Linked DNA regions of Homo sapiens: region 1 is linked to region 2. Evidence: fine-mapped expression QTL. A gene starts in region 2. The other region holds a variant in brackets. All regions are shown on one strand. Distances are from middle to middle.

The links. PIP is the estimated chance that this variant, and not a neighbour inherited with it, causes the effect.
Region 1: its variant is the best candidate, but not a certain one, in a credible set for the expression of IL1B in whole blood (INTERVAL, PIP 0.68).

What each region holds. Positions count from the first base shown.
Region 1 is chr2:112,698,602-112,703,000 of GRCh38, forward strand. No RefSeq gene overlaps it. Among named protein-coding and RNA genes, the nearest start is that of NT5DC4, 20 kb to the right of the region's middle. The variant T/G (reference allele first, on the strand shown) is at 1,737.
Region 2 is chr2:112,835,171-112,839,550 of GRCh38, forward strand. IL1B (interleukin 1 beta) reads right to left here and starts at 1,609. Exons shown (of 7, transcript NM_000576.3): 1 at 1,538-1,609; 2 at 1,013-1,074; 3 at 396-447. The coding sequence starts at 1,059.

The DNA of each region.
Region 1 (4,399 bases), 140 kb before region 2:
TAATCCATGGATGAGCACCAATCCATGATTTTGCTACTGTGAATAGCACTTTGATGAACATACAAGTACATGAGTCTTTTGGTAGAACTATTGTTTTCCTTTGGGTATATACCCAGTAATGGGACTGCTGGGTTGAATGGTAAGCTCAGCTTTAAGATCTTTGAGAAATCTCAAAATTACTTTCCACAGTGATTAAACTAATTTACATTCCCACTAACAGTGTCTAAACCTTTTATTTTCTCCACAGCCTCATCAGCTGGTTTTTTTTTAATTTTTTGACTTTGTAATAATAGCCATTCTGACTGGTGTGAGACGGTATCTCATTATGGATTCGATTCCCATTTTTCTGATGATCAGTGGGTGGAGCATTTTTTTCATATGTTTGTTGGCTCCGTGTGTATGTCTTCTTTGGAGAAGTGTTTGTTCATATCTCTTGCCTACTTTTTAATGGGGTTATTTTTGTTGTTGTTGTTACTCCCTTCTTTTTTTTTTTCATGCAGAATGTAGATACTATTTGTTCTGCAAACTTTTCCCCCACAGTTGTTGGTAAATCTTGGAGGTCTTTCCTTACTAGTAGATAGAAAGCTTCCTCATTCTTCTTTTTTTTTTAATTGAGGTATGATTGACATGCCAAAAAGCTGTACATATTCAGTTTGTACATCTTGATGAGTTGAAAATAAATATATACCCATGAAACTGTCACCATAAAAAAGCCATAAACATAACCATCAAATCTAAAAGTTTTCTCTCTTCCTCTTTTTTTGTGGGTGTGATAATGACATTTAATATGAGCTCTGTCCTCTTAACACCATTTTAAGTATACAATACAGTATTGTTAATTATATGTGCCATGCTGTACAGCAGATCTCTAGGACTTGTTCATCTTGAATAGCTGAAGCTTTGTACTTTTTGACCAGCATTTCCCTGTTTCCCTCTCCCCCCAGTCCCTGGTAACCTCACTTTTCAAAGTCGTATGTGTATAAAGTATTGCATTACTGTGGGGCCTTAACTTTATTTAACCAGCCTTCTATTGATGGATATATGCTACTTATTTTACTGTTATAAGCAGTGTTACCATGAGCAGCCTTATATATGTGGACATTTTGGATTTGTACAAATCAATCTGAAGTGTAAAAGTGGAATGGGTCAAAGAAAGGATTGATCTTTTTTTTTTTTTTTTTTTTTTGTAGAGTCAGTATCTTGCTGTGTTGCCCAGGCTGGAGTGCGGTGGCACCATCGTGGCTCACTATGGCCTCAAACTCCTGGGCCCAAGCAATCCTCCCACCTCAGCTTCTCAAGTAGTTAGGACTACATCACAGCCAACTAATTTTAAACATTTTTGGCAGAGATGGGGTATTGCTCTGTTGCCTGGGCTGGTCTCAAACTCTTGAGCTCAAAAGATCCTCCCGCCTCTGCCTCCCAGAGTGCTGGAATTATAGGCATGAGCCACCACACCTGGCTGATTTATCTTAATTTTGATAGATGCTGTCAGATTGCCTTCCAGAAGTGGTTGCATCCATTTACATTCCCACGAATAATGTTTGAAAGTTCCTCTTTCTCCACAGACTCACCAACAGAGAATATTATCAACTAGTTGGATTTTTGCCAATGTGATAGGTGAAAATTATCTGTAGTGTTAATTTGCAGTTATTTTATGAGAGATTTTGATGATCTTATACATTTAAGAGCCAGTTGTTTTCCTTTTCTTTGAATTGTTTGTTCATTTTTCTCTTATT[T/G]GGTTATTGATGTTTTTCTCAAAGCTCTTTATGTATTAGGGAGATTCACTCTTGTCTGTGTTACGAGTTGTAAGTTCCTCTTCCCACAGTGTCACATGCTTTTGGTTTTGCTTATGGTGTATTTCATCACTGCCTTCTGAATTATGATTGCTTAAATTTTTTTTTTTAATTTTGAAATAATTTATGACCCAAAGAGTTACAAAGATAGTACAGAGAGTTCCCTTAAATCCTTCTTTCAGCTTCCCCTACTGTCCTCCAGAATTATGGTACAATGACTTTCAGTCAGAAAGGTAACATTGACTCAGTGGAGTTAATTAATACATAGATTTCAGTTGGGTTTCCCTAGTATTCCACCTAATGTCCTTTTTCTGTCCAGCATCCAATCTAGGATCCTGTTTTGATTTAGTAATGATATCCTCTGAATCTCCCATCTGTCACAGTTTCTCAGTCTTTTCTTGCTTTTCATGACGTGGACAGTTTTTAACAGTAATGGTTGGGCATTTTGTAGAATCTTCCTCAATATAAGTCCATTCAATGTTTTCTCATGGTTATATGAAGGTTATGGATTTGGGGGGAGAATAATGCAGAAGTAATGTGCTTTTCTACCAGTGTACCATGTCAGGATACATGATATTAACTCTGATTGCTTGGCTAAGACAGTGTCCAGCTGGTTACTCCACTGTAAAGTTTCTATTTTCCCCCTTGTAATTAACAAGTATTTTGGGGGAGGTACTTTGAAGCTACTGAAATATCCTGATTTTTCTTAAGCTTCTGATGCAGGGCAAGTGAGCCTCCAAATTGGAGATTAGCCAGAGGGGGTTTTTGGCTTTGCTCAGGAAAGAATTCAAGAGTGAGCCAGTGGTGTGAGACAGCAACTTTTATAGATGCGGTAGTGAAGGGCAGCAGCAGAGGAACTGCTTCTTCTGGAGCACGGCTACCCATAGGCAATGTGCCCAGAGCAGCAGCTCAGGGGCAGTTCTGCGGTTATACTTATACGTACTTTATTTATTATCATTATTATTTTATTTTTTGACAGAGTCTCACTCTGTCGCCCAGGCTGGAGTGCGGTGGAGCGATCTCTGCCTCCCTGGTTCAAGCGATTCTCTTGCCTCAGCCTCCTGAGTAGCTGGGACTACAGGCATGTGCCACCACGCCCGGCTAATTTTTTATGTTTTTAGAAGAGATGGGATTTCACCATGTTGGCCAGGCTGGTCTTGAACTCCTGACCTCAAGTGATCCACCCGCCTCAGCCTCCCAAAGTGCTGGGATTACAGGCATGTGCCACCATGACTGGCCTGTATTTTATATACAAATTAAGTGATGGGTTATTCAGAAATTTCTAGAAAAGGAGTCATAACTTCCAGATGTTGCCATGGCAATGGTAAACTGTCATGGCACTGGTGGGTGAGTCTTATGGAAAGATATTTTTGGTGCCTCTTCTCTGTTTCAGCCAGTCTTCAATCTCATCTGGAGTCAAGTCCTGCCTCCTACCTCACTTCTACCCACTAATTTTAGCATTCTTATATGGATCTTGTTACAGACTGGGCCAGCTACATAATTTGTAGGTCTTAGCACAAAGCGAAAATGCTGGGATTGCAGGCCTGAGCCACCGTGCCCCATCAATCATTGCTGTTTTAAAATTAATAAACTTTATCTTTTAAAGCAGTTTTAGTTTCACAGCAAAACTGAGCAGAAGGTGCAGAGTTCCCATCCACCTCTCCCCACCCATGCACAACCTCCCACACTGTGGACATCCCCCACCAAAATATTAAAAATCGATGCACCTGCACTGACTCATCCTCGTCACCCAGAGTTCATAGTTTACATTAGACTTTGCTCTTGGTGCTGTACATTCCATGGGTTTTGACAAATGTATAATTACATGTATCCACCATTATAGGATCATGCAGAATAGTTTCCTGTCCTCAAAATCCTCTGTGCTCTGCCTGTTTGTCCCCTCCCTTCCCCCAACCCTTGGTAACCACTGACTTTTCTGCTGTCTCCATAGTTTTGCCTTTTGAGAATGTCATGTAGTTGGAATCATACTGTATGTATCTTTTTCGGCTGGCTTGTTTCACATAGTAATATGCATTGAAGTTTCCTCCCCGTCTTTCCATGGCTTGATAGCTAATTTCTTTTTAGCAGTAATATTCCATTGTCTTGATGTACCACAGTTTATTTATCCATTCACCTATTGTAGGATATCCTAGTTGCCTCTAAGTTTTGGCAATTATAACTAAATGTGCTGTAAACTTCGGTGTGCAGGTTTTTTTTTCTTTTAGACAGGGTCTCACTCTGTTGCCCAGGCTGGAATGCAGAGGCACAGTCATTGCTCACTGCAGCCTTGACCTGCTGGGCTCAAGCAATCCTCTCACCTCAGTGTCCCAAGTAGCTGGGACTACAGGCATATGTCACCATGCCTGGTTAATTTAAAAAATTGTTTTAGATATGTGATTTCCCTATGTTGCTCAGGCTGGTTTCAAACTCCTGGGCTCAAGCAATCCTCCAGCCTTGGCCTCCCAAAGTGTTGGGATTGCAGGTGTGAGCCACCATGCTTGGCCTCTCTGTGCGGATTTTTCTGTGGACATAAATTTTAAATTCATTTGAGCAAATATCAAGTAATGTGACTGCTGAAACATATAGTAAGAATATGTTTAGCTTTG
Region 2 (4,380 bases):
AAAAGGGGTAGACATATGTTAGTTCTCAAGATCATCTCTTGGTTTCAGAGTTTAACTCAAGTGATTGGCATAGGCTGAATCCATCTCTTAAAAGGATAATCAAATTTATGTTGAAGACTTGGTTGTCTTCCTACTATGAAATGGGAAACATTATCACTACTCCTCCCCTGTCACCACCAAGTGTGGCCACCACCACCAACGTTAGTGAGTGACTGTGGTGATATGATGACCAAGTGGCCAGGTCAGCAAGTGGTGCAGCCTGTGTCTCACTGGAAGAGGTTAAAGTCTTTCTAAAACAAAATACCATGGCATCAAAGTGGCCCAGAACTCCCTTCTTTGAGCTTTCCCTGTGTTAGAGCCCTTCCTTGGGTTGGGAGTTAAACCCATAGTCTTACCTTCATCTGTTTAGGGCCATCAGCTTCAAAGAACAAGTCATCCTCATTGCCACTGTAATAAAAACAGGGACATGTCTCAATTATGTCTTCTAAACAGGTTTATTTTTCCTTCCCTGTGTACAAGACTTGACTGTTCATAAGAAACTGCAAACAGCCTGCCTCTCAAAGCTGCCTGAAACACCTGGCAAGTTTCACAGTGATATGCGCAGAACAGTCCAGAAGGCAGATTCTAGGCCTGGCAGGTGGGCACCCTGGGTGCTCCCTGTTGGATCTTGAGGCCTAACCTCTAGCCCAGCAGAGTCAGCTAAAATCTGAGCTCTCCCTCTCCCTCCAAGCCACACTTTGCAAAGGGATTCCTTGTATTGTGGGCTTGGAGTCTTTTCTCCCCATTTGCCTCTGCAGGAAGCCCTTGCAACAACACATCTGGATAGCCTCCAGGTCCCAAGGCTGGAGGGACTTGTAATGGGAAAGTAGTCTTTAAATCAGATTTACTTGGCACCCTGTTTGCCACTGAAAGAGGCAATTTAGGGGAAAAATCTGGTCTCCAAGCACAGATAACACTCTACTCTTGAAAGAGGAGACCTGCTCATGTTACTGGTCTCAGCGTCTCCACTGACCTGTAATAAGCCATCATTTCACTGGCGAGCTCAGGTACTTCTGCCATGGCTGCTTCAGACACCTGTGTAAAAAGGAGAAAATGAGTGACTTCCCCATGACGGCTACGTTCATGTGTGATTTCTCTCAGCATCCAGTGCATGGCAGTCATGCAAAGAAATGATCTCTGAGTAAATGAATGAATGTGTGAAAGAGAAGTCCTTTGGGTCTAGAGAAAAGCATTTGCTAAACCAAACCCCAACTAGCAATGTATTGGCTAGGAGAGCTGGAGCAGAGGCTTTGACACTAACCTTTAGGGTGTCAGCTGTTAGATAAGCAGTATCCATTCCCAGAATATTTCCCGAGTCATAAGCATTATATTACACCTGGCATTTTTGCAAAAAGCTGAGAGAGGGAGGCAGAGAGGGAAGGAGAGGGAGAGACAGAGAAAGAAAGAGAGAGAGAGAGAGAATATGCATACACACAAAGAGGCAGAGAGACAGAGAGACTCCCTTAGCACCTAGTTGTAAGGAAGATTAAAGTCATACTTGAGCAATGAAGATTGGCTGAAGAGAATCCCAGAGCAGCCTGTTGTGCCTTGTGCCTCGAAGAGGTTTGGTATCTGCCAGTTTCTCCCTCGCTGTTTTTATGGCTTTCAAAAGCAGAAGTAGGAGGCTGAGAAATTTCTCTGTTGAATACCTGATTTCACAATCAAGTTAAAGGAAAGGGGAAAAGAGTATTGGTGGAAGCTTCTTAGGGGAGGGGACTAATAAACTGAGATAATTCTCTGGTTCATGGAAGGGCAAGGAGTAGCAAACTATGACACATTTTGCAAATGTATCACCATGCAAATATGCATTGTTTTCCTGACAATCGTTGTGCAGTTGATGTCCACATTAAAATACTGGATTTTCCCACGTTAGAAGAATGTTTAAATTTAGTATATGTGGGACAAAGTGGAAGACACACAGATTTATACATGCACATACTTTTCTTCATTCACTTCTTTGTACTTAAGTTTAGGAATCTTCCCACTTACAGATGGATAAATGGGTACAATGAAGGGCCAATAGCCCTCCCTGTCTGTATTGAGGGTGTGGGTCTCTACCTTGGGTGCTGTTCTCTGCCTCAGGAGCTCTCTGTCAATTGCAGGAGCCTCTGAGGAGAAAATTGACCTTTCTTGGCTGGGGCAGAGAACATACGGTATGCAGGGTTCAGGCTCCTGACGGAGTTGGGGCAACCCTGGAGATAAGCTCACACAACCCTGCAAGACCAGGTGCTGTTACCCTAGCCAATCTCATGGATGAACCAGATCAATGCCAGATGAGCTCTGCCTAAAATGATTTTTTGGTGAACTCTGAAAAGTGGAATATTGTTTCTGTAAGAATATCCATCTGAGACTCTATCTCTTGGTAATACCAACCAAGAGTTATCAGTTTCTCTTTAACCGAGACACCAGCAAAGTGCCTGCTCCAGGGTACTGCCCAGGGGAGCCCTCCATTTGTAGAATGAATGAGAGTCCAGGTTATGAACAGTGCCTGGAGTGTAGGAACACCCTCCTTTGCCTCTTTGACAGGTCTGCATCATAACACTTTTTTTTTTTTTTTGAGACAGAGTCTCACTCTGTCGCCCAGGCTGGAGTGCAGTGGCACGATCTCGGCCCCCTGCAAGTTCCGCCTCCCGGGTTCACACCATTCTCCTGCCTCAGCCTCCCCAGCAGCTGGGACTACAGGCACCTGCCGCCACGCCCGGCTAATTTTTTGTATTTTTAGTAGAGACAGGGTTTCACCATGTTAGCCAGGATGGTCTCGATCTCCTGACCTTGTGATCTGCCCGCCTCGGCCTCCCAAAGTGTTGGGATTACAGGCGTGAGCCACCGTGTCCAGCCTGTAACACTTCTTATAGCACTGAGTTGAAACCTTGCTCCTCCTGGTTCCTCCAGGAAACTGAAATCTTTTTGAGCCAAGTCTAGCACAGTGCCTGGCATGTACATTCAGGTGGTAGAGTTTGCTGCTTGAATGGGTGAATGGGAATTTGACAGCATTTTTATTCAAATTAGTATGTGCCAGGTATCGTGCTCGCTCTGCATTATCCAAGGGAGTGAGCCTCTGTGCAAGTATTTGAGACACGAGGGAAATAGGTTCTACTGTGGGAAAAAGAGCATTTCATGGACTTGCTCTCCAAGCAGCCTTCTGATTTTTAATTTGGCTCCCAGTATCTTGATATCAGGAGTCAGTCACAAGAACTCCATCTTTAGTAAGTTATATTTTCCACAGGAAATCTAAAAGCTGTTCAACATGTTAGTTTCCTGTGAATTTGATAAGCCATAATCCATTCCTAACACTGAGCCCTCCTGAAATTTGGTGTCTGGTCCTGCAGATAGCTAAAAGCCCTGTCTGGGTGGCCTAGGGGACTCCTCTGTTTTGCCTCCACAGGATCCACTTTGCAAATTAACCACTGGTTCTCCCGTTGTAGGAACTGCCACCTTCCTCAGAGCCTGTCTTTCTTCCTTCCTTCCTTCCTTCCTCTTTCTTTTTCTTTCTCTCTCTCTTTCTTTCTTTTCTTTTCTTTCTTTCTTTCTTTCTTTCTTTCTTTCTTTCTTTCTTTCTTCCTTTCTTTCTCTTTCTCTCTTTCTCTCTTTCTCTTTCTTTCTTTCTTTCTCTCTCCCTCCCTCCCTCTCTCTCTTTCTTTCTTTTTCTTTCTTTTCTCTTTTCTTTCTCTCTTTCTTTCTCCCTCCCTCTCTCTCTTTTTCTTTGTCTCTCCCTCCCTTCTCTCTCTCTTTCTCTTTCTCTCTCTCTCTCTCCTAGACAGGATCTACCTTTATCCCCCAGGCTGGAGTGCAGTGGTACAATCATGCATTCATTGCATGATCACAGCAGCCTCAAACCCTTCCTCAGAGTCTTTATGCGGCAACCAGCAGGGTCTGGAGGGTTGGTGGCTCTGTGAACTCTCCTGACAGAACACAGAGATGTCTTTGGTCTGTTGATGTGATTACAAGCTGAACGAAGGAGGATCAAAGCCAGTGACAGGAAGGGAGATATGCAAGGGACCCGAGCATCAGCTCTGAGTTAGTCCATTCTGCTTCTGGGACTTGGGATACAGGTCAGAAACCTTGAGCTTCTACTTCTCCATCTTCCAATTGTAGCATCCAGGACCTCAGAATCTGCCAGCTAAGAGGAGCCCTAATGATTGTCTGGTGGGATATGGTGGGACCACAGAGATGAAGACATGAATAGCTATTTGAATGTGAACAGCAGACGAAGAAATCAAGGCTAGGAGGGTGGAAGTGACTCATCCAATAGCACAGTGTGGTTGAAGCAGCACTAGTATCCAGGTTGCATGAGCCCCTGATGCTTTCGCTCGAGGGAAATTTTGGAGCCATGGGGCAATG